Regions from separate parts of the Homo sapiens genome. Here region 1 is linked to region 2. The links come from fine-mapping of genetic effects on gene expression. A gene starts in region 2. The other region holds a variant in brackets. All regions are shown on one strand. Distances are from middle to middle. Region 1 overlaps TAMM41 (TAM41 mitochondrial translocator assembly and maintenance homolog). Region 2 holds the start of TAMM41 (TAM41 mitochondrial translocator assembly and maintenance homolog).

The links. PIP is the estimated chance that this variant, and not a neighbour inherited with it, causes the effect.
Region 1: its variant is fine-mapped to the expression of TAMM41 in lung (TOPMed, PIP above 0.99). The same link has a PIP of 0.9 or more in whole blood.

Annotation. Positions count from the first base shown.
Region 1 is chr3:11,806,679-11,811,196 of GRCh38, reverse strand. It overlaps TAMM41 (TAM41 mitochondrial translocator assembly and maintenance homolog), which reads left to right. Exons shown (of 8, transcript NM_001284401.2): 6 at 1,515-1,680; 7 at 3,302-3,364. Among named protein-coding and RNA genes, the nearest start is that of TAMM41, 38 kb to the left of the region's middle. The variant C/A (reference allele first, on the strand shown) is at 2,304.
Region 2 is chr3:11,844,687-11,848,909 of GRCh38, reverse strand. TAMM41 (TAM41 mitochondrial translocator assembly and maintenance homolog) reads left to right here and starts at 2,025. Exons shown (of 8, transcript NM_001284401.2): 1 at 2,025-2,408. The coding sequence starts at 2,274.

The DNA.
Region 1 (4,518 bases), 38 kb after region 2:
TAAATATTTACCCCTCTAGCTTTATGGAGCCATTAAATAATAACATTTTTCTCCTTCTCTTCATAGAGTTTATAGACAAAACTAGAAAATTCAGGTATTTGGTATATACTTTTTTGTTTTTTTTGATACCATCTTGGTCTTGTCACCCAGGCTGTAGTGCAGTGGCACAATCACCACTCATCGTAGCCTCAACTTCCCAGGCTCAAGTGATCCTCCCACCTCAGCCTCCCAAGTAGACAGAACTGTAGGCTTGCACCACCATGTCTGGCTTTTTTTTGTTTTCTTTTTTTTTTTCGTAGAGCCGGATATCTCACTCTTTTGCTAGGGCTGATGTTGAATTTTTGTGCTCAAGCAATTCTCCTGCCTCAGCCTCCCAAACTGTTGGGATTACAGGTGTGAACCTGTGCTCCTGGCCCATTTGGTATGTACTTAATAAATATTTATTCAATTTAAAAAATGGTAGAATGAGTGGATTCTAATTATTAAGAAAGTTCGTCCTATCTGTAAACTCTAAGCCTAAAATGTAATACATTGATCTGATTTTTTCTTACTCTTCTCTTAGTTGAAGTTAAAACCTAAATATTTGTTAAAAGGATACAAGACAGATTCTTCCTTGGGAAATAATGTGATGGGCTGTTGAGGGCAGTGTTACTGGTTCTGCACTTGGCAGGAAATCAATGTTTACAAGATTTTTAAAAATTCATTCCACGAGGCACAGTGTATGAAACTTGGAGTTAGGAAAGCTAGGTCTGGCCTCAGCTCTGTGGCTAACTTTTGATTCAAGGGTTTCTGAGTAAAGTCTGACACATAGTTTTACATGTTTTATTTATATATTTATCTTCAGCACCTTAGTATGTTTTAGAATACTTTGGGAACCGAAGCCGCTGGCATAGTAGCTTTAGGACAACTAAGTTGTATTGATTCAGTTACTCATTTCCTTATTGTTTTTTGAGTACCTACTGTGTGCTGGGGATTAAAAGTAAGTAAGATTAGTTTCTGTCATCAGTGTATTCCTACAGTTTGTGAAATACAGCATACTAAAAGGCCCTACAGGCAGGAGACACAATTCAGATCCCACTTACTCTCATTGGTGATGTGATCAGGGCACGCCAGTCTCCCTGTGTTTGAAATGGGAGGGGTCATCTCAGTGCCTGGATTTGACGCGGCCTCCACGAGTGTCAACTGCAGCACCACTTCCTTTGACTGCTGGATTTAAGACAAATATAAATTTTAAAACCAAAAGTCAGAAATTGATCCTTGAGAGTGGCTTCTATTCTTTTCTCAGGTAGAAATGGAATATTATAGGACAAGAATTGTCCTTTTTGAAGGGACTTAGACTCCTGAACACTTACCCATTCAGTTTCAGAAAAAGAGAGTTTCCTTAGCTTGCTGCCTCGCCAGGGGTGTGGGTGCATATATGTTTGTGTGATTTTTAAAGAGAAGCCCTGAGTTTTGGAGTATTTGTAGGATTTAAAGCACTTCCATAGACGTCGTCTTTTTTTTCCTCCCTTCAGATAGATAAAAGCCCAGAAGGACAGTTCACTCAGCTGATGACATTGCCCAAAACCTTACAGCAACAGATAAATCATATTATGGACCCTCCTGGAAAAAACAGAGATGTGGAAGAAACTTTATTCCAAGTGGCTCATGATCCCGACTGTGGAGATGTGGTGCGACTAGGTACGTTTATGAATTTGATGTTGAGGAAATGCCAGCCATGGGGAAAAGCAGACTTTGTTTGTGATTGGAATGTATTATTTCTTCCTTTTTGTTTAGCGAGATAGAGAGATTGCCTCTCAGAAGAAGAAAGCACTAAAAATTTGAGGGTTTTCTAAATCTGCATTTTTATTTGTTTGAAGTAAGATGGTGAAAATACTTCTGTTTTTAAATTCCTGGATCCTAAATCACTGTCAAAGGGAGAAACAATGTTTCTTTTGGTTCCTAGAGCACAACTTCTAGAATTTATTTAAAAGATGTGTCTGTGTTTTGTGGTGGTCTGAGAAAAGAGATTGGTGGCATTTTTTTGTGCTTTTATAACATCGAGAACACAGCTTTCCTCAATCAACTCCATTTGATGTGTCTCATACATTGTTGAGTACATTCCCTCAGACATGGCCCACGTTCCACAGCATTTTCCCCAGCACTGCCCTGATGTTTATCCAAAACTCTGAACCCAGGCCAGGTGCAGTGGCTCACGCCTGTACTCCCAACACTTTAGGAAGTCCAGGAGGGAGAATCACTTGAGGCCAGGAGTTTGAGACCAGCTTGGGCAACAGAGCAAGACCCTGTCTCTGCAAAAATTA[C/A]AAAAGTAGCTGGGCATGGTGGCACATGCCTATAATCTCAGCTAACTTGGGAGTCTGAGGTGGGAGGATCGCTTGAGCAGTTGGAGGCTGCAATGAGCTAGGATCGCACCACTACACTCCAGGCTTGGTGATAGAGCAGCCCGTATCTCTTAAAAAACAAACAAAAAAAAGAGCCTGAACCTTATCTTCAGAGACTAACTTCCCTTTAAGGTGCTAAAGGTAATTTATGAGATCAGTCAATCAAGAAATATTTATGAAATTGAGAATGAGTCCCTCTGTCAATTGAGTGCATTCTCCTGTTTTCATTCAGTAAATATTTACTGAGCTCCTCCGCGTGCCAGATAGAATTTCCAGTAATGCTTTGCAAAGACCATCGCACTGCAGTGGATGAGCTGCAGCAGGCGCTCCACGCCCACTCTCCTCCTGGGCCTGCACTAGGTTTGCAGAGTGTGTGTTTAGGTCACCAGCTCCCCATCCTGAAGATAGCTCTGTACGAGGCACACTGTTGTTTGTTTGAACATGATCCTGGCAACAGTGTGATCTGGGCCGTCTCTTTGAGGTGAGTGAAACTTGTTCCTCACTGTGGAATCCGTATGTGTGTTTTCAGAATGAAAGTTTTTCTCGTAGATGTAATCATTTGGTTTTTATCTTTTCATGTTATGGAATTGAGAACCAGAAATCTCAAGCAGATTTAAGTCATAAAATGCCCTTTGAGGGTCAGCTAACCCATCCCCTTGTTTTAAGGGGAAGAGGCACAGAGCTGTTCGGTCATCGGCTTGGACTCACACAGCCGGGTGGCGCCACGGCTGGCTGCTCTGGTCTCCTGGCCCTCAATCCCACTGCCCTTTTCATTGTCACTGTGACAGCAGGACAGAGATAGATTTGGTGGTTTGATTGGCTGACTAGAAAGAATATTTAGTTTCAAGTTTTAAAACTGTTAAGATGACTAACATCTGTTTTGGGTTTTTTTGGTCTCCTTTTTGGTTTTTTTCTCGCAGGGCTTTCAGCAATCGTGAGACCGTCTAGTATAAGACAGAGCACGAAAGGCATTTTTACTGCTGGTAAGAGCTTTGGAAATCCGTGTGTAACATACCTGCTGACTGAGTGGCTTCCACACTCTTGGTTACAGTGTAAAGCTTTGTATCTTTTAGGTGCTTGTGAAATGCTGAGCTTTGATGGCCATAAACTGGGATATTGCAGTAAGGTACAAACAGGCATAACAGCAGCAGAACCTGGTGGTCGAACAATGTCAGACCATTGGCAGTGCTGTTGGAAGCTTTACTGCCCTTCTGAATTTTCTGAGACACTTCCTGTGTGCAGGGTTTTTCCCTCATATTGTTTTATTTATCAAAGTTACAGATGCATAGGATTGCAAAAACAGCAGCATCTGTGCTCCCCCTCCTCTTCCCCTTCTCTGAGACAACTGCTTCCATCTGTCTTAGTGGGTTATTTTTGTTGTTACTGCCATTTCTCTAAATGGTAAGTTTTCGTTGCTCCTTCTCTACGTTTCAACTTTAGGTATCATCTATTGACTTCTCTCTATGGGAGGTTAGAAGTCAACTCTGGCACCCACCCTCATCAAATGTACGCACCCTCCCATCCCTCTGTCCTCCTAATATAGTTGTCTGGTGGTTTTGGCTAATTAGTTTTCAGTTTGATGGTATGGTGAGCCACAGAGTACACCTTTCCTTCCCTGCATAATGTTCTTCTCTCATGGAGAGTGTCTTCGCTGTCCCCTCTAGGGGGTCCCCCATTTACTGTATCTCATGTCTTTCACTTGCTTGGTGCACACTCTCATTTTGGTGAAGCACATTTTCCAGTAATTTCCTGAGAAGGGGAACATGGAAGGCACATTTGGAGACCACGTATGTCTGAAAGTCTTTTTTGTCTGTCTTCACCCATAGTTAATACTTAGGCTGGGTATTGATTAGAAATCACTTTCCTTTAAAATTTTGAGATCATTGCTGCATTTATCTTTTACTTCTAGGATTGTTGTCTATGTCTAAAGCCAATCTGATTCTTAATCCTTTGTGTATGTTATTTCTGGAAGCATGTTAGGTCTTTATTTTTCCCCAGTGCTCTGAATTCTCTCAGTGATGTGCTTTGATGTGAGTCTGTTTTTATCTGTTTTATCTGTTTTACCGGGAATTCATTGCCCTTTCTGTTGGGAAACTCAGAATATAAGCATATAAGAAAAATGTTTTAAATTTTTTCT
Region 2 (4,223 bases):
GGTAAAGACCTTGGCCTTTAGAGGTAGGTAGCCCTAGGTTCAAACCCCGACTTCACCACTTTCCTGTGTGACTTTGGAACATTTACTGCTCCTCTTAGGACCTCTGTTTCCTCGTATGAAAAATATCATCATCTTAGAGAACCTGCCTCATAGGATCTCTGGAGTGATGAAAAGAAACAAGTATAAAAAGCCTGGGTGCAGTGGCTCACGCCTGTAATTCCAGCACTTTGGGAGGCTGAGGTGGGCAAATCACTAGAGGTCAGGATTTCGAGACCAGCCTGGCCAACACAGTGAAACCCCATCTCTACTAAAAATACAACAATTAGCCAGGCATGCTTGCTTGAACCCAGGAGGCAGAGGTCACAGTGAGCTGAGATCGTGCCACTGCACTCCAGCCTGGGCAACAGAGCAAGACTCGGTCTCAAAAAAAAAACAAAAACAGAAAAGCCCCAAAGAAGTCTAAAAAGTGCCTGGGCATACTAAGTGCTTAATAATGACACCTATTATTAGTATTATTGTCACCGAGTCCTTTCAATTCTTTCTTGGTTGAATTTTCCCATCTATCTTCTACCTGATAAACTCCTACCCAGCTTCCAGGCCTGGCTCAAAATGCCATCATTGTGAAACCTCTTCTGGTCCCTTTCCCCAACACCCAGAACTGACTGACGTTCCCATTGGAGGGACATTACATTCCGGCACTGTGCTGGGTACCTGGCTGCATTACCCAAATTCTACTCTGATTTGCAGTTCTGTCTCCTCTCCTCTACAGACCCCTAGCTCCTGCAGGGCAGCAGGCAGCTCAGATCTCTTCATCTCAGTGCAGGCCCAGAGTGTGAGTGCAAGTAATCATTTTTCCAATTGATTTAATCCCATCCCTGCTCCTAAGACCTTGGCCTAGCCGTTTCCAGTTCATGGGGGAACTATGATAACAACTGTCTAATCAGTCCCCCACAATTCAGGCTAACATGTGAATTACATAAGTCCTTGCTCAAAACCCTTCAAGGACAGAGCAGAATTTCCGAAAAAATCCCAGAGTTGGAGCCAGACCTGGGTTTAGCTCTAGTTTTGCCACAGGCTGATGTGATCCTATCACCTGGCTTTACCTCTCTAAGCCTTAGCTTGGCCATCAGTAAAACCAAGGCCCTCCTGCCACAGGGCACTAGAGGGTGCTCAGTGAGAAGTGCATGTGAAAATGTGTCAACATTACCTGAATGTTAGCTATTACTATTTCTATTATTTTTGAGAGGTAGTGTATTTTGGGGAGGAAGGAGAGGGTAGTTGAAAAAGTTTCTGTCCTGGAAGTCAAACCACCTCCTGAATGGTAATCTTCAGCAAGTTTCTCCAGTTATACAAAGAGGAGAGCTGTAAGATTTTTCTACTCCTAGGGTCCTGTTTCCTCCAGAAACTGCATTTGAAGCACCCTTTGTGAGACCATTCCACAAGGCAAGGGGGCAAAAACTGTGATCCACCCTTGAAATTAAATGCAAGTATCAGAGAACGTCTGTGCACTCCCATATCCACCCTTGTATTTGAAAAGGGCTTTAGCGTGAAGAAGTCTCCGTCAAATCTTGACGGTGGTATTCTCTACATGGCGGGATTGGGCATCATTTTAATTTTGTGTTTTTCCAAATCTTCGAAATCTGCAATTTTGGAACTAGAGCGATGATGGGGGCACAATATTGTGAAGGCACTACATGCTACTACACTGTCCATTTCAGAACGGCTAGTTCCATATTATGTGAGTGTCGCCTCACTTAAAAACCTTCAATACGCTCCCGATTTTATAGTCATTCTTTAAACCGTAGTTTGAAGAGAGAAGTACAGAGGCTATCAAGGCTCAGGGCCCGCGGAGTCGGGTGACGCTCGCCTCCGCCGATTTGTCCAAGTCGCAACCTAGCCGCCAGCCTGTAGGGCACTCCTCCGACCACGAGGGGACAATGCAAAGCCTCGCGTTCCCCACACTAAGGCGAGCACCGCCTCTTGCGTCTTGGAAGCGCCTGTGCGTGCGTGGGGCGTAGCAAGGGACGGAAGCTCTGCCTGTGCGACCGCCGCCCACCCGAGCCTATCTGGGCTGCGTCTTCTCGCCGCTGCTCTTCGTGGCCCAACGCCCCAATCCTTGCGTGTGCTTGCAGTCCCACCCCACACTCAGCCTTGTGTCCCTCGATCCAGTCTCCGACTTCCATTTCCCACCCTAAACCGCCTACCCGGTGTCTGTTCCCCGCCCGGTTGTCCTCGCCCTGCTGCGCTGAGTGTCCCCTGTTAGCCTCGACCCCATGGCGCTGCAGACGCTGCAGAGCTCGTGGGTGACCTTCCGCAAGATCCTGTCTCACTTCCCCGAGGAGCTGAGTCTGGCTTTCGTCTACGGCTCCGGGGTGTACCGCCAGGCAGGGCCGAGTTCAGACCAGAAGGTGAGCCCGGGCAGCCCCACGACGGGGAACTGTCTGTTCTCACGAGTCCCGTTTTGCCCTCGATTCCTTCAGAGTCGGAGAGCTGCCTGTCCGCTCTGCACACTCCACGTGTCCACTAGCAGAGTGAACCATAGGCCTGCCTTCCTAGTATAACGACAGCGCGAGTTGAAGCGACGGTGTTGAAGGATACTTAGGAATCCACGTGGGTCTAGAGCAGGAGAAGCAGTTAGGCAGAAGGAAAAACTGCTGCAGGGGCAAATGGAAGAAAGGAAAAGAAATCGTTATCAGGTTCTTTCAGTGTTTTAGTCGGCTGGACATCGGAATTTTCTGGGGAGCTTTTAAGAAAATCCTAATGCTCGGCTTCCGCCGATGGAGATTCTGATTTAATTGGTTTGGGATGAGGCCTGGGCTTCAGGAATTTAAGAAACGTCCCAGGTGATTCTAATGCGCAGCCAAGTTTGTTGAGAGTCACCTCTATAAATGTAGGAGAAAATGCAAAATGATCTTCTGACTTCAGGAAGTTGGCGGACTGGTTGTAGGGCCAGGGCAGGTGCAGTGAAAGTAACTAACATCAAAAGTTAGTGCGTGACCAGTGTATTTACCCTCGCTCAGCACTTTTAACAACGGTCTGTTTGAGACTAGGCATTGTTACTTTTCAGAGTTGGCTCAGCACAGCCTCAGTAAGGGTACAGTTTTCCTTGTAATTTGCAGAATTCAGTGTGCAGGTTTTAATGGGGCCCCCTGCGTCTGGATACCTGACTGTAGTCTGTCTTCTGATTAACATCCTGCCTGTTCACTTCCTGGTGAGGCCATCTATGCTGTTGCTTGGATTTCCTCTGTTTCCCACTTACACTACTATTTAATATTTTTCTTTAAATTGGCAGCATATGAGAAATTATAGGTTATTATAGGCTAGTTATTTTTCCCGAATTTACCTTAACATAATTACACATTTTTAAAAAACATGTTTATTCCATACCTGCCTCGCCACCAAATCTCAAGTGTCCCCAGTGGTCTGTAGAGTCACACTCTACAGAGCAGGCGTTAGCCTCCTGATGGCCACCTCTTCATTCTTCCATGGAGGTTTTCCTTTGAATAGACCTGGAATTCCCTGCAAGAAAAGGTCCTTCCTTCCCATTCCCTCACTTTTGATTCCTTACATTCAAGTGAACAAGTTGTAGATTCCAACACCTACATCTTTCTCACATCAGTCCCCATCCTTAGCGCCTTAGCTAATATAATTTCATTTCTCCCCTGGAATCTTGCCATGGCTTCAGATCTAATTCCCCCACCCCCTTAGTCCCTCTTCTCTCCAGTCAGCTCTTCTGCAGGAAAATTTTCTAGCATGGCAAACAGCCTCCCTCTCTGATCTCATCTCCCACCGCATAAATGTGTTCTATTTCAGTCATATCTGACGGCAGCTTCCAGAACATGCTGGCTCCCATATCCACAGAGCACTTTCCTCCAACACGGCTCCCTACCCTTCCCTGTGCTTCCCCCAGTGCTTCCAGCAAGTCTGTTTAACTCACGTGTCCTTCAAGACTCAGATTTGTCATCTCTAGGAGAATTTCTCCCTCCTGTGCCCCTGATCTGATCCCTATGCTGAGTGCAGTTAGTACATTTTGCATTCCTCTATCAAGTCAATGTAGTGATAATTTGTTTATTCTCTCCAGTAGACTCTGAGCTCTATACTTCTACCCTAGGGCCTGTCAGAGTTCATTACTTATGTACTCAATAAGTGGTTGGTGAATAGGTAAGAGATAAAATAACTGACTTCCTTTTATATAGTATTTTGTAGAGTTTATCCAGGTGGTG